Linked DNA regions of Homo sapiens. The protein of the gene in region 2 interacts with the protein of the main gene of each other region in a pairwise test. Each region holds a gene or a part of one and is shown on either strand. Other genes may lie near its edges.

Evidence for each region.
Region 1: the proteins of OTX1 (region 2) and PCSK5 interact in binary tests that used the Homo sapiens proteins (3 or more experiments, as listed by UniProt).
Region 3: the proteins of OTX1 (region 2) and NDUFV2 interact in binary tests that used the Homo sapiens proteins (3 or more experiments, as listed by UniProt).
Region 4: the proteins of OTX1 (region 2) and SPRY4 interact in binary tests that used the Homo sapiens proteins (3 or more experiments, as listed by UniProt).
Region 5: the proteins of OTX1 (region 2) and TRIM42 interact in binary tests that used the Homo sapiens proteins (3 or more experiments, as listed by UniProt).
Region 6: the proteins of OTX1 (region 2) and FBLN5 interact in binary tests that used the Homo sapiens proteins (3 or more experiments, as listed by UniProt).
Region 7: the proteins of OTX1 (region 2) and JPH3 interact in binary tests that used the Homo sapiens proteins (3 or more experiments, as listed by UniProt).

Annotation. Positions count from the first base shown.
Region 1 is NC_000009.12:76,358,588-76,363,085, forward strand, and holds the end of PCSK5 (proprotein convertase subtilisin/kexin type 5 isoform 3 precursor), read left to right. Parts: coding exon 1-335; 3' UTR 336-4,388; downstream 4,389-4,498. UniProt on the Homo sapiens protein: Serine endoprotease that processes various proproteins by cleavage at paired basic amino acids, recognizing the RXXX[KR]R consensus motif. Likely functions in the constitutive and regulated secretory pathways.
Region 2 is NC_000002.12:63,053,466-63,056,714, reverse strand, and holds part of OTX1 (homeobox protein OTX1), read right to left. Parts: intron 2,784-3,249; exon of another isoform or gene 2,669-2,783; coding exon 2,517-2,668; intron 1,215-2,516; coding exon 399-1,214; 3' UTR 1-398. UniProt on the Homo sapiens protein: Probably plays a role in the development of the brain and the sense organs. Can bind to the BCD target sequence (BTS): 5'-TCTAATCCC-3'.
Region 3 is NC_000018.10:9,119,164-9,123,661, forward strand, and holds part of NDUFV2 (NADH dehydrogenase [ubiquinone] flavoprotein 2, mitochondrial precursor), read left to right. Parts: intron 1-162; coding exon 163-225; intron 226-310; coding exon 311-427; intron 428-2,101; exon of another isoform or gene 2,102-2,293; intron 2,294-3,349; coding exon 3,350-3,518; intron 3,519-4,498.
Region 4 is NC_000005.10:142,309,556-142,313,099, forward strand, and holds the end of SPRY4 (protein sprouty homolog 4), read right to left. Parts: 3' UTR 875-3,544; downstream 1-874. UniProt on the Homo sapiens protein: Suppresses the insulin receptor and EGFR-transduced MAPK signaling pathway, but does not inhibit MAPK activation by a constitutively active mutant Ras. Probably impairs the formation of GTP-Ras.
Region 5 is NC_000003.12:140,691,053-140,695,550, reverse strand, and holds part of TRIM42 (tripartite motif-containing protein 42), read right to left. Parts: coding exon 4,359-4,498; intron 1-4,358.
Region 6 is NC_000014.9:91,941,195-91,944,694, forward strand, and holds part of FBLN5 (fibulin-5 isoform 1 precursor), read right to left. Parts: intron 1,768-3,500; coding exon 1,713-1,767; intron 1-1,712. UniProt on the Homo sapiens protein: Essential for elastic fiber formation, is involved in the assembly of continuous elastin (ELN) polymer and promotes the interaction of microfibrils and ELN. Stabilizes and organizes elastic fibers in the skin, lung and vasculature.
Region 7 is NC_000016.10:87,689,135-87,693,632, reverse strand, and holds part of JPH3 (junctophilin-3), read right to left. Parts: intron 3,988-4,498; coding exon 3,107-3,987; intron 1-3,106. UniProt on the Homo sapiens protein: Junctophilins contribute to the formation of junctional membrane complexes (JMCs) which link the plasma membrane with the endoplasmic or sarcoplasmic reticulum in excitable cells.

The DNA.
Region 1 (4,498 bases), on a different chromosome or scaffold from region 2:
CCATGATGCTGGTGCTTCTGCTCGGGGCAGCTGTGGTAGTGTGGAAGAAATCTCGTGGCCGAGTCCAGCCAGCAGCAAAGGCCGGCTATGAAAAACTGGCCGACCCCAACAAGTCTTACTCCTCCTATAAGAGCAGCTATAGAGAGAGCACCAGCTTTGAAGAGGATCAGGTGATTGAGTACAGGGATCGGGACTATGATGAGGATGATGATGATGACATCGTCTACATGGGCCAGGATGGCACAGTCTACCGGAAATTTAAATATGGGCTGCTGGATGACGATGACATAGATGAGCTGGAATATGATGACGAGAGTTACTCCTACTACCAGTAAACAGGCACTCCCCCACCAACACCACCATTCCACTCTCAGGCATGCCTGTGAGCATCACTGTTTTTGGTTTTATCCCCACACCAGGCTGATGTGTGAGTTTTTCTATTTGTCTTCTTTAACCATGAGTCCAACCAGAATATGTAAGAATGATGAAATACTTTGTTCTTCTTTTGAGTGGCTAAACTCAATTAACAGTTCCTGTTCAACCGTAATTGAAGAGCAAGGATAAAATTCAGAGGCATTTTCCTCAAAATAATGTGTTAAGACACAAAAATGAAGGAAGTGAAAACAAATGAGATTTGTACAAACTCTTCTATGTGATTTTAAAAAAAGGACAGCAGATCTATAGAAATTCTGTTTCCGAGCTGCATTGTGGAGGTGTCTGCTGCCTCCTGGTATTCTAATTTTTCTTTATCTAATTTTGGGGATAATGGAGGTACAAAGGAGTTGTTGGTTTGGTGGTGTTTTTCTTCCCTTTAGCTGTCTTTAGGCAGAAATTTGTTTTGTAAGGGCCAAGAAAAGAGGGCTCTTATCAATTGACTCCAGGCCACCCCTGGTGAGCAGAAGAGACCACCTGGGCTGGGCTGCTCAGGACCTACTTGAGATAAGGGAAGAAAAGAGAAGGTGCATCATAGCTGAGGAGCCATGAGGTCACCCCAGGCCCTAGTTCCTCCGCAGGAATCCAGAGTCACAACAATTCTAAAGGCAGAGCAAGCCCAGCGAGAAAGAAATAACTGAATTTCCAGGAACTGCACTCTCATGATTTTCTGGGTACTTTTCGCCTGGGAGACATCAGCTAAGACATCGAATAATAAAAGAAAAATGGCAGTGTTAACCTAACATAAAATGGAATAAAATGACAAACACTTCATCCGCTCTAAAAAATTCAGAGCTTTCCTTCATCAACAACCCATCACAAAACCGTGGACTCTCAATAGAAAGAGTTGGAATAGAGTCTAACATGGAAAAAAAAAAATCCCAATATGCTGCTCACAAGCTGTACTCTAGCTGCTGACCAGCCTTCCAGCACTGCTCATCACTATGATTTTTGTTTCTAGACTTCCTAGGCTTCCTTTTTTCCATTCTTCTGTCAAGTGTATTCTTGGATTCATGCAACTGAGGACAGTTTTTGTCCAGATTGTAACACAGAGAAGGGCTCTTGCTATGCAAAATGATGTTGGCAGGGTCTTACAGATTTCCTTGTCAAAATAGACCTTACAGGCAGTACTAGAAATGGAGCACCAGAAAGCAAAAATGACATTTTCAGAGAATGATGATAATTATAATCTATTGCACACCTACTACCAGATAACAAGCTAAGTAATTCCCCCCCAAAAATGCCCCACTTATCCATTTTGGTACTTACCATACTCCCATGAGGTTGGTATTGCTATTATTCTGTTCTTGTAGGAAACCTGAGGCTTACAAGAGGTTAGGTAACTAGTCCAAGGTCATGCAAAGCTCAACAAAATTCAAGAAAAAAGAATGATCACCCTAAAGCGTGTGTTCTTATAACTATGCTACTGAAATAAGGTGGGAAAATAAGCATCCTAAATATAATTAAAGTCATGCCTATTGTTTTAGTCTATAATATCAATGTTATCTTTACTAAATTCATGGATTTTCTTTTTTTAACATAATGTATCACTGACACAGAAAATCTTTATGAAGAAGTCTTCAGTTTACTAAAGGCTTGTGCTTCTTTAGAGGAAAGCTCTTAAAACAGGGTTGACAAACAGTCTCTGGAAAGAGCCAGCTAGTAAGTACATTAGGCTTTCTTGGCCAGAAAGTCTCTGTCATAACCACTCAGCTCTGCTATTATAGCATGAATGCAGCTGGTACATAACGGATGGGTGAGCTGTGCTTCAATAAAACCTTATTTATGGACACTGACATTTGAAATTCAGGTAATTTTCACATATTATAAAATTTTATTCTTCTTTTGATTTTTTTCAACCTTTTAAAATTTAAAAATGCAAAAGCTATTCTCAGTTCACAGCATTACAAGAACAGGTGGTGGGTCAGATTTGGCCAACAGGCTGTACTTTGCTGACTTTATCTTTAAAACAGTTTTCAGAGATCATACATGTACATGTATGATATGCCTCCAAAAATTTTGATCATTTAAAATTATCTCCTTGGCCAGGCGTGGTGGCTCATACCTCTAATCCTAGCACTTTGGGAGACTGAGGCAGGCAGATCACCTGAAGTCAGGAGTTTGATACCAGCTTAGCCAACATGGTGAAACCCCATTTCTACTAAAAATACAATAAAAATCTGGGCATGTTGGTGCACACCTGTAATCCCAGCTACTCAGGAGGCTGAGGCAGGCAAATCACTTGAGCCCGGGAGGCAGAGGTTGCAGTGAGCGGAGATGGCACCATTGCACTCCAGCCTGGGTGACAGAGCAAGACTCCATCTCAAAAAATAAGTAACTAACTAACTAACTAAATAAATAAATAAATAAAATTATCTCCTTGCCAGGACTGCTGGCTCATGCCTGTAATCCCAGCACTCTGGGAGGCTAAGGCAGGAGGATTGCTGACCCACCACCTGTTCTTGAGCCCAGGAGTTCGACATCAGCCTTGGACAACATAGTGAGACTCCCGTGTCTACAAAAAATTTAAAAATTAGCCAGGCATGGTGGCAAGTGTCTGTAGTCTCAGCTACTCAGGAGGCTAAGGTGGAAGGATCACTTGAACCCGGGAGGTCGAGGCTGCAGTGAGCTGTGATCTTGCTATTGCACTTCAGCCTGAATGACAGAGCTAAGACCCTGACTCAAAATAAATAAATAACATTATCTCTTCAAAATGTATCTGAAGCCCTGATAGTTCTACTTTCAATTCTTAGAAACATATAAAAATATATGCATGATAGCCATCATATCAATGGAAGACTTTCTCACCTCTGTGGTTGCAGTTAGCTTACAAAAACGAGCAATTTTGCTTATACTGTGTTGTTCATCTTCCTTGTTAATTCTAAAGCTCTGATAGACTGAGTTTGACATTTCTTTCTGTAAACTGGAAATTGTTTTCTATGAAAAAAAAACTCTATGATACACAGTTAAAGATTGGTTGAGGTTGAGATGAACTTCAATACTAAGAAAAATTGTGGTGTTCCTCTGTGTGGCCTGCAATGAAAAGAAGGCTCATGCTTGTGTATTGAGGTTTGACATCTTTCCTTCTTTGTTTTTAGTCATGCAACGTCATTCTTAGATGGCTTTTGAATACTATGCTAATGACTATCTAAATAGATAAATATGTGATTGGAAAACAAAGTCACCTTTTAGTTTTCTACTTGGAAATATTAAGAGAATCCTTGTAGACTGGAAACACACCAAAAGGCTGGGTAAAGCATGGGAGGTTCCAGTTAATAGAAAGTAATTTTAAAATTGGAAATAAAATTAAATCAAGACCAGATAATGCTATGGAGACTTACTTATTAAATAACTTTCTGAGCATTTTTATGTGCTTAGCATTACATTTTCCAAGTAAGAGATACACAACAAGAGTGCTATTTTTTCTTCTTTTTATCTTCCTACACTCAAAGACCAAGCTAGCTTTATCAATTCTGAATTTTCTCTCCTAAAAATCAGCTCAATCTGTCTTTCTGCCTCATCAGCACTGCCTCAATCTAAGGGAGGAAACCACCCCTCATATTGTCTTATGCCCAATTTCTGCCTCCAAAGAAAGAAGAAGTAAAAACTAAAAGGCAAAAATGAAATCCACAGGCAGACAGCCCGGCGCTACGCCCTGGGCCTGGCAGTTAAAGATCGACCTCTGACCTAACCGGTTATGTTATCTATAGATTCCAGACATTGTATGGAAGAGCATTGTAAAAATCCCTGTCCTGTGCTGTTTCGTTCTGATTACTGGTGCATGCAGTCCCCAGTCACGTACCCCCTGCTTGCTCAATCGATCATGACCCTCTCACGTGGACCCCCTTAGAGTTGTGAGCCCTTAAAAGGGACAGGAATTGCTCACTCGGGGAGCTCGGCTCTTGAGACAGGAGTCTTGCCGATGCTCCTGGCCGAATAAACTGCTCCTTCTTTAACTCGGTGTCTGAGGAGTTTTGTCTGCGGCTCATCCTGCTATAAATCAGGCCCTCGGTGTTTCTCATCTAGACCACTCATACTTCTTCCTGAAGTATTGTGCAGCTTTAAT
Region 2 (3,249 bases):
AAAGAATAAATTAAAGTGTTGGGCTCAAACAGCGGATCAGAGCGCAGAGCCTCCGAAGGCTGCAAGTGCTTAATAGCTGTCCAGAAAGACTGGAAGGGGAGGCTTAAGAGTTTAGTAGGGGCTGAAGGGGGGAAATAATACATCTCTCCTGTATAGAATGTGTAGGCCAAGCCGAAGCACCGGTCCCCCCATCCAAGGGGCAGGGTGGGTTTGCACATCCCCCCAAGCAAGTGGCACAAAAATGGGGGCGGCAGTGCAGGCAATGGACATCTTTTTGGGGGGTGAAAATTCAGTTTTGGAGAAGACGAGGCAAAGGCGGGCGGTGCAGCAGCAGCAACAGGATCGGGACCACGGAGGGCGCAGGTAGTTGCGTTTCTTCTCCTCTTTCATTCCTGGGCTCACAAGACCTGGAACCGCCATGAGGCTTGGTCCTTATAGTCCAGACAGTCGGGGGAGTTGAAGTTGAGTTTCCAGGCGGAGGAAGCAGCAGCGGCGCCAGGCTCCTTGTAATCCAAGCAGTCGGCAGAGTTGAAGGCAAGCCCAGAGCCACCGTAGCCTTGGTGGTGGTGGTGGTGATGGTGGTGGTGGTGGCCTGAGGACTGGCTCAACGGGTGGTGCGCATGTGGGTGGTGATGATGGTGGCCCGCCATGGAGGAGGGTGCCATGGGGCTGAGCTGGTGCGGGTGGTGATGTGAGTGCATGGGCGCTAGGTATGAGCTGCAGTCCACGCCGCCAAAGTAGGAAGAGGAGGGCGTAGGGTAGCCTTGGCCGTAGCTGCCGCCCTGGCCGTAGGACATGGGATAAGAGGCTGCTGCGGTGGCGGCGCCTGCAGCTACGGAGCGCTGCATACACGAGGTGTTGCTAGGCGCGGCCAATGGCTCCGGCACCGACACGGACGCGGGCGCTGAGCCTGGCGAGATGGAGGCCGGGCTCCAGATAGATGAGGCAGCTGGTGTACTCAGCGACGACGCGGCCGCCACCGGGTTCCCACCTAGTCCCGCAGCCGCTGCAGCCGCTGGGTTGGCGGAAGAGCTGGACGCCGAGCTAGAGGACGAGGCAGAGCTGGACACAGCTGGCGGCGTGAATTGGCCACTGCTTTCGGAGCCCGAGCTCTCCCGCACTGGAGAGGACTTCTTCTTGGCTGGGCGGCTCTTGGTTCCGCTCCCGCTCTGCTGCTGCTGGCGGCATTTGGCGCGGCGGTTCTTGAACCAGACCTGCAGTGGGCCGGATGGGGGAGAGTGGGTCAAAGGGAGCTAGGGGAGCTTGTTGCTCCACCGCCCCGCGGACCCAACTCCCGGTCCAGAATATCGCAATCCTTTCTCACCGAGGCCTCCGCCCCTTCCTGTCTCTGGCCTGGCCAGACCCTGCCCCCTACCTCGGTTCCCAGCTCCTCCACCCTCCCCCATCCTTCTGCTCAAAGCCCCTCCTCAGCTGGCTCCAGAGCAGGGATGCGCACCTCCCCACCCCTACCGCAACTCTGCCCTAGGGCGGAATATTTCAGTCTGCCCAGTCAGAAGTTCTGCCATCTCTAAATTGCTGCTGTTGGCTGCTTCCGTGTATGTTTGGAGGCCCCGTGTGTGTTTGGAGGCCCAGTTTTCTACTAACAGAGCTCAGGCAACAGTGGAGAGGTACAGAGCCGAAGAGTGTGGAACAGTCACCAAGTCTAGGGCCTGAGCCGTTTCACTGAGCAGCTCCTGGAGGCCAGAACTGGGCAGGGCGAGTATTTGGGTGGGGGTAGGAGCAAGGCCAGAGGCTAAACAGAGGTAGTACTTGAGGGACTCGGGAAGGAAGCCTGGGTGGGATTTCGTTGGCCCTTTGGCTCCAGGTGGGGAACCAAATGGAATGGTTACTCTTCTAGGAGAGCCCCAGCACATGGCACTGCATTCCTGGTCCCCCTTCTCAAGCTTTCGAGTAAAGGAGGCGAGACTCTTGAGGAGAGTTCTGAGTTAGAATCCGAACGTTATCATCGGAACCCTTTCATCTCAAAAACAGAAATAAGAAAGCCGGCAGCAGGATTTTGCACTTAGCATCCTCTGTAAGCAGAGGAAGCGTCTAATGAGACCCAGGCAGAGCACCAGGCTCCAGCCAATCTCCGCTCTTCCATTTCTAGGATTCCCGGGGTGGAAGACAAGGGCAGAGGCAGAATTCAGGCCTCTAAGGGAAACTGCCAAGTCCTGGGGCAGGCGAAGAAGCAGGGGCAAGTGTCAGGCCCGCAGGGCGCTTTACATTCGGGAGCTTCCCTAGTCCTCCGGCAATTCTAAAAAGTACTTTCGATACCGACACCGAAGGCGCCCTAGGGCTAAAGGCGGAATCCAGGGCTCTAAGCCATTTCCTTTAACTTTTGCCCCCTTTCCTGGCTGGGGCCCAGCGCTAGGGGGAGTCCGAGAGCGGCTGCCCAGTCTGTAAGCCCACCCCCACAGGATGGTCTCCTCAAGAACTACTCAAGAGCCTTCCTAGACCTTCCCCGAGCAGCCTCAGCTCCCCTACCCAGACCCTGGAGCCCGGGGAGTGCGCACCTGGACTCTAGACTCCGGCAGGTTGATCTTGAGCGCCACCTCCTCCCGCATGAAGATGTCAGGGTAGCGAGTCTTGGCGAAGAGCGCCTCGAGCACGTCCAGCTGTGAACGCGTGAAGGTGGTGCGCTCCCGCCGCTGCTTCCGCGGAGTGGCTGCGGGGACACGCGGGGGCGCCGCGGGTCATTGGTGGCCACGTGGACCCGCGATAGAGGACTCGGGCAGGCCCCTGGCAGGCCCAGATCTCGGCCTTCGCAAAAGAAAGCCGAACTGGGAATAAAAGAAACTCCCTCGGGCGGCCGAGCCTGAGAGGCCACAGGTGGGAGAAAGTGCAGATGTGCGACTAGAAGCCAGTGTCTCCAAGATTCGAGGGCTGCCCCTCTCTATGCCTCTCAGAGGTTAAAAAAGTTAAGAGAAGTCTACAATCTCCCTTCTTCTACATCCCCTCTCCCCTGCACACACACACGCACACGCACACACACGCACACACACACTCTGGATGGGGGACAGGGAGTGGGGAAGAGGTAGGCAGAAACACGACCTGAAAAACACTTTCGGAGAAAATAAATGAGGTAAAGGAGCGGGAGCTAAAAAAGAAACCCCGGCTTTGGCTCAAGTCGTCCTCTACAGCAGCGCAAAAATGGGTGCAGGACATCGATTTAGAGGACAATTTAATTAGGGAGGAAGAATACTCCTTCAGTGCAGCCTGCCGCTTCGCATAAGGAAAGTTTGGCTC
Region 3 (4,498 bases), on a different chromosome or scaffold from region 2:
ATGTGTGTTTAGACATTCTTTTTGATGGAAGGATAGGGTGGTATATATCATGTTGGAATTAAAATGGAGAGATTAAACAATAAGTAATAGTATAGTAATGTACAGTGTCATTCACACTTGAGAGAATTTGGATAAGTCTGAAAAACTGTTTTTGTTGTGTAGCACAGAGATACTCCTGAGAATAACCCTGATACTCCATTTGATTTCACACCAGAAAACTATAAGGTATGGCTAAATTAACATTATAATTAATTTACCAAATAGGTAATATTTTCTAGATGTATAAAATGATGTTCTTTCTTTTATACAGAGGATAGAGGCAATTGTAAAAAACTATCCAGAAGGCCATAAAGCAGCAGCTGTTCTTCCAGTCCTGGATTTAGCCCAAAGGCAGAATGGGTGGTTGCCCATCTCTGCTATGAACAAGGTACTGGATTCATTTTTGCCTTAGTTCTAAAAGAGAAGAGATTGTGTATGATAATTTCCTTTTATAGAAATTACTCTGATCATCTCCAGTGTCAGAATCTAGGATTTTGGAGCCCTTTAGCCATTTGTATGTTTCCTTGAATTGTCTTTGTGTTTTTGTTCATTCCCTTAATGCATAGAGGTGATTTCTAACCTTGCAGGAAATAAGGAAGGCATTATGGTGAAAGAGGGTATGTGTTTTTTTTTTTCCTTTTGAAGGAAATGGTCAAAGATAAAAGATTCCAAATGTGTATAACTTAGTGTCAAGATATTCTGAAAATTAATGTAATATTTAAACACTAGAATTACAGAAAAGAAGATCTGCTCACTAGTATGAAAATTTTTAATATTTTACATCTTTGGCTGTAGGCTGTAAGAAAAATCTGTATAATAGGTGATATTTATACAATTTGATTATGCTACTTTGGAATCAACGACCTATAGAAATGCTATGGATGACCCATTTTATTCAAAGTTACTCTATTCATATAATATTCATTTTTCCTAATAGTTTTGAGCAGTAATACAAATTTCAAGTTTATTCGTATCCTGTTAATACAAATAACTACATTTGTGTGGTGATGTATTACAGCATATCATTTATAAAGTGCCATACACAAACCACATACTATTTGATTCTGATGAGAATCACATAACCATTAAGCTGTGTTATATAATGGAAAATATTTTTGACTTAGAACTAAGACACCTGATTTTTCTCTGAACTTCCTCATTGGCAATGAAAGTTTTGAACCAGGTAGACCTCTTCTAATTATTAAGTTATGATTTCTGAGCGGTAGTGCTAGGACTGAATTCATTTCTAAATCAGTGCATTTTCTACTTGACTGACTATAACAGAGATTTTGTTGTACTTCATTCTTACCACTTTCTAAACTTAATTTGGTTATAACTCTTAGGCTAGACAATCATCTTTCTGAGAGAATAGGAATGTCCTCAATTTATCTAATAGAATCCTAAATGCAAATTTTAGATTTAGTTTATTGATATTTTATTTTATTTGCATTGTATAGTACTATAACACTGGTTTTTCCCTATGAAAAATATTATAAAGCAAGTTTAGTGAGTTACTATCCTGAGTAAACATAGGTGGTTATTTCTTCGATAAATTATGTATTTCTTGGGAAGTTACTTAACATTTTTTTAAATTAAAATAGCCAACTTTATAATGATTTAGGTATATGTTTCTAATTATAATGTTATTATTTTGAAAAAATCATATTTTTAGTAATGGTAAGCCTGTTGGAAATCTTGCTGAGTGGCACGTTAGCAGAGCAAAATAAAAATAAATAAGAAACTGAAAGTGAAAACATTTAAAAAATAAGACAGGCATGGTGGTGCATGCCTGTAGACCCAGGTACTCAGGATGTTGATGTGGGAGGATTGCTTGAGCTTAAGACCAGCCTGGGCAAGATGGTGAGACCCTATCTCTTAAAAAATATGTATTTATATATTGTCCTATTATATTTAGGGTTGGATTTGTGTGGGGGAAAGGCAGGAAGTGTAGGGTATAGGGAATAGACTCAAGATTCTTTGCACTTTACATTTGGGACTTTTATTTTAATGTTACTGCCCCTCCCCCCAACCCATGAAACACCTAACCTTACAACAAAAAATATCCAGAAGCTTAATAATTATTTATTTAACCGTCACTAAGGTGTAGGGAGATGTGCAGAATTCCAGGAAGGAGTCTTTTCCTAATTAGACAGTCAGAGCCTCATTCCAGATTTATTATTCCTTTGGTAGGGTTCCAGCATGTATATTTTGATAGAGAGCTCCCCAGATTCAGGGATACGTCCTTGATTCAGAACTGCCGAATGAAATAGCACAATTACTTTATCTGTCACAAGTGAGCCATGATTAGATGTCTTTTGAGAATATATTTCCTTTAGAATTCCTAATATGAGAAAGTTAACATACTTGTCTGAAATGCCCGCTCTTCTTTTATATTAGAATATGGATATATCTATAATTTTTAAGAATGCCAGATAGTAAGTCTTAATGATAATAGGTCACCTAGAAAGTTGTAGACAGAATTATAAATCACGATAGACAAGGACCAGCCCTGGCAAACAGCTAGAAATCCTCGTTTTCCCTAACAGACTTGCCCTAAGAAAAGATGCTGAGTTAGTGATCCCCTTAGTCCTGAACACCAGAATGTCAAAACAATTGTTTTCTATTAATGTCTTGACGTGAAGGGTTAGAAAGTACTAGACTATATGATTCAACTTTCAAAAGAGTATTGTGATATGAAATAGAAGTAGTGTGCTGGATTCTGGGAGAGGAGTGTGTGATTGTGTATGATAATATGTGTATACATATATGTAGAGATATAAAATTTTGAGTTTACATATTTAAAATATGGGCCAATAGTGAGCTTTGATTTTCAACCTTTTTTTCTGTTGCTGTACCATTTGTATGTAGGCTGTTTGGAAAAAATTGGTGAGAGTTTAAAAAATCTAATTGCTTCTTTTATTGGGGTTTGGCCATCAATTTTTTGCCATTTAGACAGATTATAAAATGTGAGTTGACATGATCAAAGTAGAAATTCTTAATAGTGAAATACTTAAAGATTTAGAGAAAAAGAATATCCTTTTACAGAGGTGAGAAGTAGGGTAGAAGGAGGAAGTGCTGTTAACTCCATTAACTTTCGGGCTCTGTATGGTTTAAGTGTAAGTACATTGTCTGCAAAAATTGAAGAGTTTATATCTCCCAGTTATCCAAGACAAGTATGTTTTCTGCTCTTGAAGAACTTTTCTGTTTTTACCAAATTGAGACAATATTGAAATTATACTTTGTACAACATAATTAAAGCTCCATTACTAACACTGTAATTATCTTATTTTTAAATGTCCTAATATTTTAGGTTGCAGAAGTTTTACAAGTACCTCCAATGAGAGTATATGAAGTAGCAACTTTTTATACAATGTATAATCGAAAGCCAGTTGGAAAGTATCACATTCAGGTCTGCACTACTACACCCTGCATGCTTCGAAACTCTGACAGCATACTGGAGGCCATTCAGAAAAAGCTTGGTAGGGAATACATGATATTTGTAACACTGATAAAAAGTAGAATTGTCTCTCTAGATTTGGTACATTTCTATCTAAAATTTCCAACTTCTGCCATCTTATTGGATCTGTACTTACCTAGTAATATTTTGTGTTACTGTGTTTCCACATCTTTATTTCTTCCTATTTGGTATTCTTCCTCAGTTCTTAGTGTTAAAGCTGAGTTTTTAATTTTTTCTTTTTTAATCAGTATGTTTGAAATGCTTGTAGAAGTTATAAAATATTCGTTGTTTAGAAGATTGTTTCACTTAGAAAATTGTTTCACTTACTATTCTATGACAGCATGTGGTATATTAAAAAGTGACCCATTATTGTCTTTATATTCTTCTAAAGAAGTCATGGAACAAATAAGATACAAGCATAGTAAGAATGCTTTGGGAAGGGAAATTTGAAACAGATGTTATTACAGTAGCATTTGAAAAGTAAATTAGCATTTTAAAAGTAAATGGGCATTTTCCCCTACAAAACTGCCATTGCTACACTTCTAACTATATATGTCAAATGAAGTAATATTTTGTTATTGAATATAATATGTGCATGTTGTAAAAATAGCTGGGTGGTATTGAAATATATAAAACAGCTGAAGTTGGCTCAAACCCCCCCACCCCCAACACCATCAAGGTATAAATCCTGATAACAATTGGATATATTAGTTGTAGATTTTATATCATTTTAATTATTAAATATATAAATGTACTACATGTATGCTTGCTTTTTAGACTTTATTTTGGCTGTATTTCTACAGCACAATATATATGTCTGCCTCATTTTTTTTTTCTGTTTTTTTGAGTTGAGGTCTCACTTTGTCACCAGGCTGGAATGCAGTGGCTGGATCATGGCTCACTGCAGCCTCCAATTCCTGGGCTCAAGTGATCTTCTGCCTCACCCTTCCAAGTAGCTGTAGCTATGGGTGCATGCTGCCAAGCCCAGCTAATTGATTTTTG
Region 4 (3,544 bases), on a different chromosome or scaffold from region 2:
GGGTCTAAAGTTTGAGTGCCCTGGTCAGGGGTGGGGGTACGAGGGAATCAGAAGCAAGATGCTGGCCAGGCGCGGTGGCTCACACCTGTAATCCCAGCATTTTGGGAGGCAGAGGCGGGCAGATCACTTGAACTCAGGAGTTTGACACCAGCCTGGCCAACATGGTGAAACCCTGTCTCTATTAAAAATACAGAAAATTAGCCGGGCATGGTGGTGCGTGCCTATAATCCCAGCTACTCAGTAGGCCGAAACAGGAGAATCGCTTGAACACAGGAGGTGGAGGTTGCAGTGAGTGAGATCGCTCCACTGCACTCCAGCCTGGGATGCTGTCTCAAACAAAACAAAACAAAAAACAGAAGGAAGGTACATTAGAAGGTCATGAAATGGATGGAAGGCTTTCGAGGCTAAAAGGACTAGTTTTGTGCAATATGCACCAATCCTGTGAAAATACGGAAATGACCAAGGGCTTTTCTATTTAGTTCCTTGAAGCATGTATGTTGTGTGTTCATGTGTGTGAAAACCTGCTTTGGGGGCAATCGGGACATAAAGGGAGAGGAATGGACAGGTCAGATGACACTTTTCCCCCTCTACCTCTTCCCAGTTTTGGAGCTTTGCTGTCCATCTGCAGCACACTCCAGTTTAGGGGACAGCTTTCCCAGGAAGGAGGCTCTAGCAGCTCCTTGCAGTATTCCGCTTCATAATGAAGAGCAGCTTTCCTCCGATGGTTCTACGGTCGTCCTAGAGCTGGGAGAAGGGATTGCCCAGCCCAGGAAGCCCTATCTTCTCTTCCCCTTTCAGTGGCTGCTTATTCTCAAACTTGAGGCCTTGCTGGCTGAAGAGGTCAGGGAAGTAAACACACAAACACACCAGAAACGGCAGTCCCGTGTATATTTAACAATATATATTTATATATATTTTCTAAATCAGTACATTCAGTTTTTAACTTGTTTTTTTCTTCACAAACAGAAGAACTCTTACAATAGTAGACTTTCTAAAATAAATACTATTAAAATAGAGCTTCAAAATAAATATTCTATACAAAGAAAACCTGTGGCAACTTTGTGGTGGGGTGGAAATGGGCTACAGTGAGGGGGAAATGAAGTTGGGATGTGGCGGGGTGGGAGCCTCGAGCTTTTCTGTTTGTAACATGAAACCAAGCTGTGGGACAGTAAGAAGAGAAAGCAAGGCAAGACACTGCACGCAGTTACCCACAGCAGAAAATGGCAACGCAAGATTCATCATCGACTGTCACAGTAAGCAGAGGGGGCACAAAAATGCTTGTCAAAGGCATGAACCAGAAGGCTAGTGAGGCTCGCAGGATGCCCTAGTGAATCGTACAGTGTAGAGCTGTGCTGCCCACGCCCGCCAGACACTTCCTGGGACAGCACAGAAGGAGAACAGGATGCTTCAAGGTGACAGTCATCCGGGTTCTGGTGCAGATCAACTTTCCACGTGTGCCATCTTGGACAAGTCATTATCTAGCTGGGCCTCACTCGAGGTATGATGGCGACTGACAGGCTCCACAAGGCTGAAAAGAACTAGCCATGTCTTCCATCTCAGCTCTGAGGGGGTGCGTACCAAAGGACCAAAGGAAGGGATTGGTCTTCACCCCCTTCCTGCTCAGGAAAGCCTTAGTTGTGCCCAATCTTTTCTCTGGGAGGGCTTTGCTACCCAAGACCCAGTTCCCAGGGTGCTCGCGGAAGCGCTGTCCTTCATTAACACGGGCAGCCAGAGCCCCCTAGAAGCGTCCTGGATCCCAGGTGCCCCTCGAGTTAAGACAGAACCCCCACCTACCCCAGGTTTACCAGGGGCGGGAACTAACCAGCACTTTTCAAAAAAGGTCAAGCCGAGGCATCGTCCAGCCAAACAGGCCATTGGTGACAGGAAACACACTCAGCCAGAAGCAGCTACACATGTGTGTTGTGTCTCTGAGTGCTGGGTCCCTCAGTGGCTCTCGACTGGCCCCAGAGCCGGGGAGGGTCCACAGGCAAGCCAGTTTATCCTTCTGTTTGTTGTTGTTGTTGTTGTTGTTGTTGTTGTTTTAATTTTTGCCAAGAAGCTGAGAAAAACAATGCTGAGGGATTGCTACACAACCAAGCTGGGAGAACCAAGGATGGTTCCTTCGCTCCTTTCCCATGACCACTGAGCACACGAGGCACTGAGGTGGACTCTTAGAGAGCACTCTGCAGACATCCATCAAGCAGGTTGAAAGCAAACCAAGAAGAACAAGCTAGAACAGGGGCAGGGGGAAAAAAGGAAAAAGCAAACCAAAACCCAGAAAAATCCGTGTTTACAAGTATGTACACAAAAAGTCAGGGTTCAGGAGGCCGTTTGCCAGGAAATAGGGTCTTTGTCGGTAGACAGTCAGTGTGGGGTAGGGGTGTGTGTGTGTGTGTGTGTGTGTGTATACACAGCTTATGTAAATCGACTCTCCACAGAACGGGTGTGTAGACCACCAAGATCACCAAAGTGCAACTTGCCACTGGGTCAAGTTTCCCATGGAGACAATTTGAGGGAGGGGCCCTGGGAAGTTCTGAGGCCTCGCAGAAAGCGTGCAGATGTGCACTATCAATTTTGGGGCCCCCTCATCTGAGGAAAACCATCTCCAGTCCCTTCAGTACACTTCTGATACATTCAATTCATATAAGTGGTTGGCTGAATGTGTGTTTTTTTCTACCACTCCTTCTGAAATGTTCAAGAACATCCATACATCCGTCACAACTGTGGCAAGGGTAGCTACACGAATCAGCCTTGGAAAATGCAGATGCAATATTTCACATTCGCCTTTTACAAGCTAGCAAATGTTACATAAATAAAGCCGAAAATAATATGACCCTCCCTTCCTCCAATCAATAAATACCTATGGTTACAATCAACTTACTCTAAATCATAAGATGTTACTACTAGTCTTCAAGAAGGAAAAAATAAGTCCTTGAGAAGCATTAGGTGCCTATCATAGCTACCTACCTCGCTGCCTCCTTCCCGGAGGCACCTCTGTTCCTATACAGAACAAACTGGAAATGCTACGGACGCTCTGCCTCATGCACTTCCAGTTTCACCTGGGGTAGCTCTTCTGACTCAGGCCATGCCCTCTCATTAGAGGGGAAAACAAAATACCACACAAAGCAAGAACCCCACACAAAAGCTGGGGAGGAAGGACCAGATACACTACAGCTTTTGCATGCAACAAGTACCTACCCACTGGACGTGCTGCACCTTCTGAGTCCTTTAGCACCTTGAGAGAAAGAGTTGCTACGTCTTTGAGGGCTGTCGGGAGAGGGTGGTGTGGCTGTGCACAGAAGCAGGGCTCAAACCCAGTGGCCCCTGGAAAAACCTTTCCCCTACCCTCTCCCCAGCTCTTCCAAGCTCTTCCGACTCCCCTGCTGGGGCTTCCTAACACTAAAATAGACTCTTTTTTCATCATCTCTCTATTTACATTAAAGATACAGACACATCACTATACACAAAAGGCTATGACAGTGAGCAGCAGAATCAGAAGAGAAGAAACCCAAACCCAGCCTGGCTCAGCGGTCATTCTGCCAAT
Region 5 (4,498 bases), on a different chromosome or scaffold from region 2:
TGACTCTCAGTGCAGACTGAGAAGGGCTTTGAGAGGATGGTTGGGGACAGGGGTTGCTGCATTTCCTGAAGAGCTAACAGGGAAAGACCCAGAAAATTACCAATTTGTAACTATTGTTGGGCTTGAATTTTTACCTCCAAGTCTGATGTAACCTAGGACATCCACTTTACAGATTGTGGTAGACAGAATAATGGACCCCAGAGATGTCCATGTCCCAATCCCAGAACCTTTGAATATGTTAGGTTACACACATAGCAAAGGGGAATTAAGGTTGCTAGTCAGCTGGTCTTTTTTTATTTTTTTGACATGGAGTCTCACTCTGTCACCCAGGCTGGAGTGCAGTGGCTTGATCTTGGCCCACTGCAACCTCTGCCTCCCAGACTTAAGCGAGTCTCGTGCCTCAGCCTCCCAAGTAGCTGGGATGACAAGCGCACACCACCACACCCAGCTGACTTTTTTTTAATTTTTAGTAGAGACAGGATTTTGCCATGTTGCCCAGTCTGGTCTCAAACTCCTGGCTTCAAGAGATTCTCCTCCCTCAGCCTCCCAAAGTGGTGGGATTACAGGTGTGAGCCACTGCACCTGGCCCAGCTGGTCTTCAGGTAGGGAGACTAGCCTGAATTATCAGGTGGGCTCAAAGCAGTCACAAGGGACCTTCAAGGTGGAAGATGGAGGTGGAACAGAACCAGAGAGATGCTAGTGTGAAAACTCAGCCCAATGTTGCTGGCTTTGAAGATTCAGGAAGGGGCATGAGGCAAGGAATGCGGGTGGCTTCTAGAAGCTGGAAAAAGCAAGGAAATGTATTCTCCCTCAGGCCCTTCAGAAGGAATGCAATATGGCTGACACAGATTTTACCCAGTGAGACCCATTTGGACTTCTTCAGAATTGTAAGGAAATAAATAATTTGTATTATTTAAACTACTAATTTGTTACAACAACAATAGGAAACTAATACACAGATAGGCAGTTAGATTTGTCATGGGAAGCTTTCATGGAAGTCAGCTGAGATATAAAGTCAGAGGGAGACAGTGAGTCAAAGTAAGGAGACTGTTTTCAGAAATGGGTATGATGGTCAACAGATATATTGAGGACCAGAGGAAGAGCAGGGGAAGAAACTGAGGTCAACACGTACATGACTTACCTAAAAACACATTTCTCTACCCTTCAAAAATATTAATTAGGCTCTTTGATGTTAGAAGCTTTCAGCTAGGGACCATGGGCACAGAAGGGTGTGTAAGACCAACACCTATCCTCATGGACCTGAGCCTAGTGGAGTTGGGACTTGAATCCAGGTACACAAGACCAAATACAATGCTCTTTTCAATGCGTAATCTTGACTTTCAAAAAATAAAAGTTCAGCTCTCCCTGCTGTTGGCTTTGACATCATTCTCCCAGAGTAAAGTACTATGTCCCCAGGGCTGAGCCTACCCTGTTCCAGACTTAGTTCCATTTGAGCATGGTGCAGGGGAACAAAGGACTGTGGGCTTGGATACAGACCAAGGTGTCCACTCAACTCATCCTTCTATGAGGCCTCATTTTTCTTATCTGTAAAATGGAAGACACTTTGCTTCTTACAGCCTCATTTTTCTTATCTGTAAAATGGAAGCAATCACTTCCTCCTTTCCCAGTGGTTGGGATGATTAGTGATAATGAATATACCCCATCTGACATAAAAATGACCTTCAAATGGGACCTTTCAAAATCATTAAAGTTAATTTTCTTGCTGCATGTATTACACACCAAATAAATCTCTTAAAAATCAAGTCCTAGACTATGCAAATAAAATATAAAAGGTGTTATTTCACTTTTTAAAACAAAAATACGTGTGATAGAAATATTGCATTTTGGATAAGAAATGATCCTGCTGCCTCATTGCAACATTTTAAGTGAAACCTTTCAGGAATACCTGCATAGAACTGATGCCAAGGAAAAAATTTTGATTTTATAGGTAAGAAATGAAGTCATTACTTTTATGAAACTTTATAAATGTCATTCAAACACACATCTTATTTTCATTTGGTATTGAAGGCTTTACTTATGCAAATCATGACAAATGTTAAGGAAACCAGTGTTTCCTCTGGAATGCTAATATAACCACAAAGAAGGGAGGAAGAATTACTTCTGAAGGAAAAATCTATATTGCAGCTCCTCAAGTCAGATAAAAATGAAGCTTTCAGAAAACCTCATTAATTAGGGCTCTGCTCATTTAGATATTGTGTTAAAAAGAAAGGGACTGGAATGCATTTCCTTCTCTTACAGGGAGGGCAAATTAATCACATAAACACAATTTCAAGGGAAATGCTATTTTTTGACTGTATAAAACACTTAACAGCTTTCAGGCATCTTACGGTACTTTGTAATTATTAATTTTATCAATTTATTTCTTCACTCTTTAATTTAGACATTCCTTATTTGTTCATTTATTTGGTCACATTTTCACTCATATACTCATTCAATAACTATTAAGAACCAGCTATATGCAAAGTGCTGTGGTAAGCACTGTGGGAGAAAGAACCATGAATTAGATGTGAATTTTATTCTCAAGGAGTCCATAATTTCAGAAGGGCAACAAAAGCCTCTACCTAAGAAAAGCCAAGAGGGACTGAGATGGTAGACTGATGACATACTTTGGTATCTCCACCCGTTCTTTCCCTGGCATCTGAAAATAATAGATTACATATATTTTAGCAACAGTACTGAGTGCCCTTCATGGGCAAGACAGTTTTGAGGAATTCCTAAAAACTGAGAAGGCAGATGAGATTAGATGGAAGGAAAAATCCATAGTCAAGAGACATGCGGATGTGGGGCAGCCACGGGCATTCCATGCTCTGAAGAGAAGGGTATCAAGAATGAGAAGGGCTTTGGGGCAACTGAGCAGCAGTGTAATTGGCTGGAGGCTGGCAGGAGGAGTGGCTAGCAGGCTTCCCCATCTCACATCCTTCCTGTGCCAGGTTTGACCTCTCTCTCTCTCTCTCTCTATCTCTCTCTGTGTGTGTGTGTGTGTGTGTGTGTGTGTGTGTATGTGTATGTGTGTGTGTGTCCATGGGTGCTGGACTCTATGAGGTAAAGCATGTCCCCCTGGGGCTGGCAACCAGGATGAGTGGTCCCACCCTAGGAGATTTGCTATTGGTATACTGACCACCCTTACTCCTGCTTTGCCTTTATTACTAGAGGTAGCAACCACTCGGATTCTTTTCCTCGAACATTTTACTAAGGAAACAGAGTATGGTTGGTCAGATGCTGTTGGGCATTGGAGCTTTAAGGTCACACAGGGGTTGGGCCATGACAATTCAAAACCATATACAAGCTGAATTTAAGGGAGCAGAAACTAAGGGCTAGCCAAAAATGGTGCAGATCCAGAGAGAAGCAAAGAGAATGAGAGAGTGAGAGAGAGAAGGAAGCAGGGAGAGAGGAAGAGAAGAGAAAGAGGGAGAGGGAGAGAAACTGATGACTCTCCAGTTCCCTTGGGTATCAGATCAGATGCATATCCTAGAAGTGGTCTCATGAGACTTCCTGTATCTTTGTCATAAATTTCTCTTTTCAAAAGCTGAAATGAATGGACTTTTTTTTTTTCTTCTTCTTCTAAAGAATTCCTGATTAAGATGTAATCGACCCTGATTCCAAAGAACACCCTTATGGTTATATGGTAAGATAGCAGCTCTAGGCAGTCTTGGTATTTTTATTCTCTTTCTCCTTTTAATATCAATAAAATTATACTCATGAATGTGTATTCCCTGGAGATATAAAGAAGAGTAAGTCTTGGATCACAAAGAAGATAGGAATAACTTTGTCCTTTCTTTTTTGGAAGGCACACTGACCTGCTTAGTGGCAGTTTCTCGACTTTCAGATGAACAATTGTTTTTAGTATAAATAGGTTCTAAATATTGCACTGGACATATTTTATAAAAATTATTGTGTGCCAGAAATTCAAATTTAACTGGGCATCCTGTATTTTCATTAGTTAAATCTGGCACCCCATCCTTGCCTGGGAATAGCACCTCATTTTTATCTTTCTCGTACCACAATTATTTCATGTCCTTCTCACACAACAATTATTTGTTTACTAGACCCTGAGCACCTTGAAGGCAGGGATTATGTTTATTTTCCTCTGAATCTCTACATCTGTACACAATGCCTAGAACAAATGTTTTTGAATCAAATAGAACAATTCTCAGGCGACATCTGCAAAGTCTGGTTGAGGCCAGCAGCCCTCTCTTTGGCCTCAAGTTAACAAATGTTCTGTGCTTAGAGGAAGAGTCCCATAGTGAGTTCTATAATCTCACGATCATCTTAACAGGGCCTCATCCAGAACCTACCATAGAAAAAAAAATCTGTCTGAGAAATAACGCACACAATACCTTGCAGATATCACTCCATTGCCCAGGACCATTATCATTGATGGCTCTAACTTTAAACACGTATTCTGTGTTGGGGGTCAGGTTGTGCAGCTCCAGATTTTGCTGCATTATGTCCCGAATTTGTCCACAGAGCTCCATTT
Region 6 (3,500 bases), on a different chromosome or scaffold from region 2:
TCTACCTGATTTTGATGTCTGTACATAAATAAAAGCTACACAGAGATGTGGTCAGTTTTCTAAGAAAAGTTGAATTGAGTAAATTTCTCCATTTCAACCTCAGCAAGATGACGACATAAAGATGCTTCCAGAAAGAGATAGATCTCAACAATTCCAGAGGGTTGTAGCTTTTACATACAACTTGAGCTACAAATGTATGTACTTAAAAAAAAAATGTGTTGGGTGGACTCTTCAGGAAGACCCCAGGGCCTGACATTTTCTAGGAGCTCCCATCCCTGGCCTTTTCTACAGCTTCGGAGGTTGGGCTTCGCTGAGCTGTTGGTTGATTTGCAGAGATGATGTATATGGCCTGCACTCCCGGGAGAGGGTTCAGGGGTCCCAGGGAGTTGGGGCAAAGGAAGTGGAACAGACGAGCCAGGAAGCTGTGCCGGGAAGCTGGGAGGCCAGGAGATCCAGGTTCCAGCCCTGGTTGTCAAGGACTGGCATAGGTTCAAGACTGCTGGACCAGGGCATGGCTTCAAATTCTCACTCTAGCCCCTACTCTCTGCGTAACTTTTCTATGCCTCAGTTTCCCCATCTGTAAAATGGGGGGGTATGTACGTAGTTCAAAATGGTGGTAAGGACGATGTATGTTAATCTATATAACGTGCCTAAAGTGCAGTAAACACGACCCTGAACCTCTGCCCTTGGGGCCTACCTGTCTTCATGTGTACACCATGAGGCTGCCTTAGAAAACCGCAAGGTCTAAAATTCTTTGTTACTCCTCCCAAAATCCTTCCCATTGCCAGTGGCCTGAATATGCTTCAAAATTCTTAATATGAAGAGAGAAAATGCTCCCCTACCTGCCTGCAGCCCTCAGCCTGCTCAGAGATAGGGCTTCTCTCACTTCTTTCCTGAGCCAGAGACACAGAGAGGCCACTCGGAGTTTTCAGGAGGGATCTGCCCACATTTCAGGGCTGACACACAGGGGTCCATCTCTCCTGTTGCTTAAAATAAAGTCCAGGATGCTGCAAGCTTCTTCCAGAACCCCTAAGGCCCTGAGCCTGGCCTCACCCACCCCCTTCTTACTCCTCTGAGGGGTTTCAGCCCAGGGATGGGCCCTCCTAGGTTTGGAGCTGAATTATGCAACACTACATGCTGGGATGTTTGGGTAACACCCACTTCCTCTCCCACCTCCTCCAGGAGGGGTGTGTCTGTGGCAACACATGCAGACCCGTGGGGGTCCTCAGGTGCCATTGCCCAGAAACACTACAGCATATTTTACTTTTCAACACTGAAGGTAGGTTGAGGCCTGCTGTGAGGGGCACAAATGAGGCCATGTGATCTGATTAAAAATGGATGCTGGGCTTAATACCTAGTGATGAATTGATAGGTGCAGCAAACCACCATGGCCCACATTTACCTATGTAACAAACCTGCACATCCTGCACATGTACCCTAGAACTTATAATAAAATAGAAAAGAGTCTTGGACTGGGAGTCAGGAAACTGAGTACCAGCCCCAGCCTTGTCACTTACAAGTCATGTCACCTGGGCCAAGTCTCACTTTCTCTGAGCTTCCACTGTTAACCTCTGAGAATGAAGAGCTCAGATGAGGTCAACTGTAAAGCCACTCCCACCCCCACAAACCTAGGGTTCCGTAGCGCAAGGCTGGACTCCCTCACCCCGGATTTTAATACGCTTGTAGATATTTTTTAAAAATAAAAATCTTACCTGTGCATTCCCAGGGCTTGGAAGACAGAGAGCCAGAATGGTAACAGTGAGTATCCTGTGGAGGTGAAAAGTCAAATATAAATGCCCAAGACAGATTCAGGTCTAGGGGAGTGTGGGTCGCATGCGGCCCGTGACGTGTAACGGTGATATCACCTTGGGCTTGTATGGGGTGGGGTGTGCTCCAGGGAGGTCATGGTGGTTCCAGACACCGCGACCACCCAAGCAGAACCACACCTCTTCTACTTGCCTCCTGCATTGGGATCATGTGTTAGATCACACTTTTTAATAAAGGGTTTGGCTGCTTCAAAAAAAAAAGCTAAGGTCAGGTGCGGTGGCTTACGCTTGTAATCCCAGCACTTTGAGAGGCTGAGGCAAGAGGATTGCTTGAACCCAGGAGTTTGAGACAAGCCTGGGCAACATGGTGAAACCCCATTTCTACAAAATTAAAAAAAAAATTAACTGGGCATGATAGCACGCGCCTAAAGTCCCAGCTACTCAGGAGGCTGAGGTGGGATCACCTGAGCCCAGGGGGTTTGAGGCTGCAGTGAGCTGAGATCATACCACTGCACTCCAGCCTGGGTGACAGAGCGAGACCTTGTCCTCCCCCCACCCCCCAAAAAAGCTAAAACCTCCCACTATGGTATTAACCAGTTCCTTGGTCTTTATTCTTTATGCGAGATGTGCTTGACTTTTGAACATCTTTATGCTGACATGATTACAGAGTGAATAAGCCATCATCATGCCCTCAAACAGTGAAAGGAAAAGAAAGTGAGAATGTGAGGCACTTTGAGTGGCACCAAAGAAAGGTGTCACAGGAAGTCACTGAACCAGAGCATTGAGTCCACATGTGTGAAAATCCCCCATCAGTGGATGGGTTGGGGTGGCCCTGTCCCCTGAAGAGTGTGGCCTGCGGGAACTGCTGCCAGCAGGTCCTGATGGAGGAAAGGACTCGGGGAACCTGCACAGCCCAGGGAAAATGAAACCCGCGGGAAAACAGGAGGAGGAGTCACGCACCCTGGGCTCAGTTCTGCCATGCACAAGACAGTGATGCTCTGGGAGTCTGCAACTCTGCCCTTCGCCACGCACAGGCTTTAATCCAGTAAGATTGTGGCCAGCAAGATTGCTTTAAAAATACAAAAGCAGCCGGGTGTGGTGGCTCATGCCTGTAATCCCAGCACTTTGGGAGGCCGAGGCAGGAAGGTCACCTGAGGTCAGGAGTTCGAGACCAGCCTGGCCAACATGGTGAAACCTTGTCTCTCTACTAAAAATACAAAAATTTGCCAGGCATGGTGGTACACGCTCTGAGACAAAGCGAGACTCTGTCTCAAAAAATAAAAACAAAATAAAAATACAAAATCTCTACTACTTCACACTCATGAGGCTATTAAAAAATGGAAAAGAGCAAGCGTTAGGGAGGATGTGGAGAAAGTGAAACTCCTGTGCACTGTTGGTGTAAATATGGTGCAGTCTCTATGGAAAACAGTATGATGACTCCCAAAACACTAAACATAGAATTTCCATGTGATCCAGCCATTCTACTTCTAGGTATATACCCTCAAAAAATTAAAAGCAAGGACTTGAAACAGGTATTTGTAAACCTGTGTTCATAGCAGCATTATTCACAATAGCCTAAAGGTGGACGCAGTCCTTCGATGGATACATGGATAAACAAAATGCAGTCTGTACACACAAGGGAATAGTATTCAGTCTTAAAAAGGAAGGAAATTCTGACACATGCTACAATATGAATGAACCCTGACTGTATTATGTTAAGTGAAAAAAGCCACT
Region 7 (4,498 bases), on a different chromosome or scaffold from region 2:
TGATCTCAGTTCACAGCAGCCTCTGCCTCCTGCGGGTTCTGGAAATTCTTGTGCCTCAGCCTCCTGAGTAGCTGGAATTACAGGCGTGTGCCACCATGCCCGGCTAATTTTTGTATTTTTAAGTGGAGACAGGATTTCACCCTGGTGGCCAGGCTGGTCTCGAACTGATAACCTCAGGTGATCCACCTGCCTCGGCCTCTCAAAGTGCTGGGATTATAGGTGTGAGCCACCGTGCCTGGCCAAGAAACTTTTTAAAGAAAAAGTTTGCTCAACAGATAAGCTGAACCCCAGTCAGCAAAGGGCTTTGTAAACTGTCCTTGGGATGCAGCTCAGAGAGGAGGGTCCTCAGAGGGTGAGGTGCTGCCTAGGGGGCACCTGCAGCCACAGCAGCACCAGGCCCACACCCTCCGCAACCTCCCAGCCTATCAGGGACCTGAGGCGCAGATGGAAGTGGAGTTGTGGACACAGCAAGGGCCTCCACTCAGCCAGAGAGAAAGCAAGCTGCCCTGAGCCCAGCTTTCCGTGGCATCGTGGCCTCAGGCAGGTGTATTGTGAGTCTTGGGCCCCATGACAACTTGGTTGGGCCGGGCCAGCCTGCAGGGGGCAGAGAACAGCCAAGGGCCCAGCCCTGCCCACTGATGCCACCCCTGGTGCAAAGTTCCCCCACCCCAGCGAGGAGGAAGGGCCGGATGCTAGTCAGCCTGTAGTGGGGTAGCAGGACAGAGTGGGGTGGTCAGTGGCACCTCTTCTGCCACAGTCCAGCCCGTGCTCTGGGCCGGGAAGCAGGTACGGACGCTGTGGGCGAGGGCGTGGCTGCCCGCAGGAGGGAAGCTTCTGTCTCCCCAGCCATCCTCCAACCCTGGACCCCACCATCAGGTCATATCCATCATTTCACCAAGAGGGAAACAGCCAGGGCCAGAGTTCCTTCACCAGTAGAGCGGTAGGGAGAACCTGTGCTTCCATCCTAAGGGACTTTACCCTGAATTGCCAGGGCCCTACACGGGCCAGAATCCCAGGCCCATCTGTGGCCAGTGGGACCCTATGTGGGCTAGAATCCCAGGCCCATCTGTGGCCAGTGGGACCCAGGGCCTCTGGCGTGTGAGCTCTGCAGCATGTTGGGAATGGTGGAGGGGGATGGCCAGAAGACAGCACCCCAGACCCTGCTGGTGGCCCAGGGGAGACACTGCAGAGAGCTGTACCCCTGTGAGGGGGTGGCACTGAAGGCACTCAGCCCAGCCTGGCACCCGACTGCCCTGACACCTGTCCCCTGACATGGATGCCGGCTGGCACGGGCCCCTCCTGCTTCCCACCAACAGGGCCTGGAACAGTGCTTAGGATTGACCGCGCCTCTACACACCATCTCCCCTCACAGACCTGGCAGAAAACACAGCTCCAAAGCTGTGGGGAGGGAGACGGGGAGGGAGACAGGGAGGGAAACCTTGTTTGCACCAGCACCAGGTACCCCAGGGTGGCCACTTCCAAGGAGCTCAGCTGGCATCCTCCAGGGTGGGTGGGACATGATGCTGCAGCTGACGGGACCTCCAGATTAGCCCCAGCTGGAGACCGGGCAGGACCAGGGCAGCATGTAGCACCCTGCGTGTCGCTAACTCATCCCAGAGGCCAGCTTGGCACTTGTCCCCAGCTTGTGCATTGACCCCCAGGGAGGTTCATTTAAAAGCACCCAAAAGTGTCAGTGCATTAAGCAGGCTAAAAATAGAACCCGTCCCTACACCTCCCACCCTGCCCACTGCTTGGCTGTTCCTAAAATAACCGCGCGCGCACAGCCACGCACACATCTCCGGCTGCGATGGGGAAAATCAAGTTGTAAGTGTGAGCTGGTATTTTGGTCCCAGCAGGAGCATAGGGGCTGTTCTCTGTGGGCTTTGGGGAACGGGGAGGCATCTTAGGAACCCAACAGGACAGACAGACGTCCGCAGTGGTTCCAAGGAGAGGCAGAAACAGGCATTGCCGCCCGGCAGGACGTGCCCCTTCAAAGGGGTGTCACGCGGTGACCCCTCTGGGGGTGGGGCTGGCAGGAGGAGAAAACCACAGCTCCCCTAGGTCAGGGGCAGGGACAGACACCGACCCCTGCCGCAGCGTCGACAATAAACCTACCAATGGTCCCCCCTGCCCGGCCCACACGCCCTGAGCGCCCCCTGCGGACACCCCCCTGCGTCCTCACACCCGAGGGGCAGACTGGCTTGCAGCACTTCTGTTCAGCACCACGCACTGCCTGGCAGCCACGAGCGAGCAGAGCCCTGCTGGGGTGAGGGCCTGGCCGTGCGCAGATCCTATGTAGCCACCGTCCCACAGCCCTTCATTCCCAAAGCCCTTCATTCCTGCAGCACTGGTCAAGGGAGCAGGGTGGGATTTGCAGAGTGAAGGTCCCTTCAAGGGGAGGCCAGCCCTGTGTGAGGCACCAGGACCCCCAGCCTCGCACACCGAGTCTAGCCTGGGACCCCCAGCCTCGCGCCGAGTCTAGCCCAGGGGGACGCTGTTCTTCCCTCCAAGCTGCCTGCCCTGGAGGAACGAATTTGGGGGGGGGGTGCTGGGTGAGGCTGACGGTGAGTTGCACACAGCGGGCCTCACGTGGGAGCCGGCTCCAACCCCAACACCCCCCATGGGTGAGAGAAACCTGGACTGGCAGCTCCCCCCAACCCCAGACCTGACTCCCAGCCCCAGGGCCAGCCTTGCCCCCAGCTGTTTCGCCTCTGGGTTCCTATCCAGGACACAGGACACTCAAGCGGTCATCTCACGGCCCAAGGCTACTGACCAGGGGCACAGACTCTTGGAGCAGCTGGGGTTGAGCACGTTGCGGGGAGCGCAGGGATCCCATGCTGCCTGGAAACCAGGAGTTTCGTGTGCTTTCTGGACAACCTGGGGGCAGCCTCTCACGGAAAGAGGTATGACACCTGCCCCACCTGGCTTCCTAGGGGAGGGTCCCAGCGACCTGAGGGCCACCACTCCCGGCTGTACCCCCACCCTACTCCACCCCTGGAGAGGAACAGGGGAGCAGTGACCTTGCTGGAAACCCTCAGGAAACACCAGGTCAGCAGAGAGGTGGATGTTGCCTCCACTGGGACCAGCCTGGTGGCCGCCCACTCACCGTACTGGACTTGAGCTCATCCCCATTCTCCTCGTCGGACTCTAGAGCGACAGGCAAGGATTTCTGGGGCGGGGAGAAGGTCAAGTCCCAACGCAGCAACCGGGGCTCGGCCCCGCCCAGCCGCAGGCTCGCCAGTTTCTGCACGGCGGGCTCCGCGGAGGAGGCCGGCCTGAAGTTCTCCTTGTTCTGGGCCTTGGACCGCAGTCTCTGCACCCCGAAGCCCCGGTCCTCGGGGCGGTGGTCGTCCCCCAAGCCCCGGCAGGCGCCGCCCTTGCTGTAGCGTCTTTTCTGGGGATGCGTCTCCATCCTCAGCAAGGGTTTCATCTCCATCCGGTAGTTGCTCAGCTTCTCCTCCTGCAGCTCCAGCAGCCTGGAGCCTCCGGGGCTGTGGTTGCTGGCCCGGTGGTGGGAAGTCCACGTGAACACGGGGGGTGACTCCGTCCGCCGCTCCCGCGGCTTGGGGTTCCCGGGCTGCTTGCGGCCCGAACCTCGGGTGCGGAAGTCATCCACGAGCAGGCCGCCGCGCAGGGCACCGCTGCGGACACCCCTGGAGCCCCCGGCCTGCTCCTCGCCCCAGCTGCTGCGGGCGCAGTCCCCGGCCCGGCCCTCCAGGAGCATCTGGATGTCCCCGCCCCGCTCCTCGTCCACCGACACCTGCCTCGAGAAGTGGGCGACCTTGTTCCTGGCGGCGGGCGCGGGCGGCGGGGTGGCCGCGGGGCTGGTGGGGAAGCTCTGCAGGGGGCTGTCGTCGGGGGTCAGGTCGGAGGGAGTGGTGCCCTTGCGGTACAGCTCGGGGCTCTCCTGCTGCAGGGGTGTCCCGGTGGACAGCACCTCGATGTCGTCACAGGAGGTCTGACGCTTCGGCCTCTGGTACTCCAGCCCTGTATGGGGACACAAGACGACGCCAGACGGCGTTACCCAGCACATTCCACAGCGAGGCCGCGGTCCCCGGGCCAGGGCGCCAGAGGGAACCTCAGGGCAGCAGAGGCGCTTCCCACTCACCGAAAGGCTGCAGGCAAGGGAGGGGAGTGGGGACCGTGGCTCCCAAAGCCCTCTGTGGGACCCCCGTGGTCCCCACCCCACAGACACTTGGAGGGAGACTGGCTAGGCCCAGGCACCACAGGAAGGGCGGACAGCAGCTCCCAGGCTACAAGGGAGACCCAAGGCTCGGAAAGTGCGTGAGGACGCTGGGGTGTGGACTCAGGTCCCACCAACCCTGACTCGCCTGTCCTGAGGGTAAGAGGAAGCCCCTCACCCTAGCTGACCACCTGTCTGGGGAGGCCGAGCTGTCACAGCAAGGCCGCCAACACCCCTACCCGCCTGGGACTGTGTCTCAGGGTGCTGGGACAGTCTTGCTGAGAAACAGCCAGTGCCGGGGCCAGCGTGAGAGCC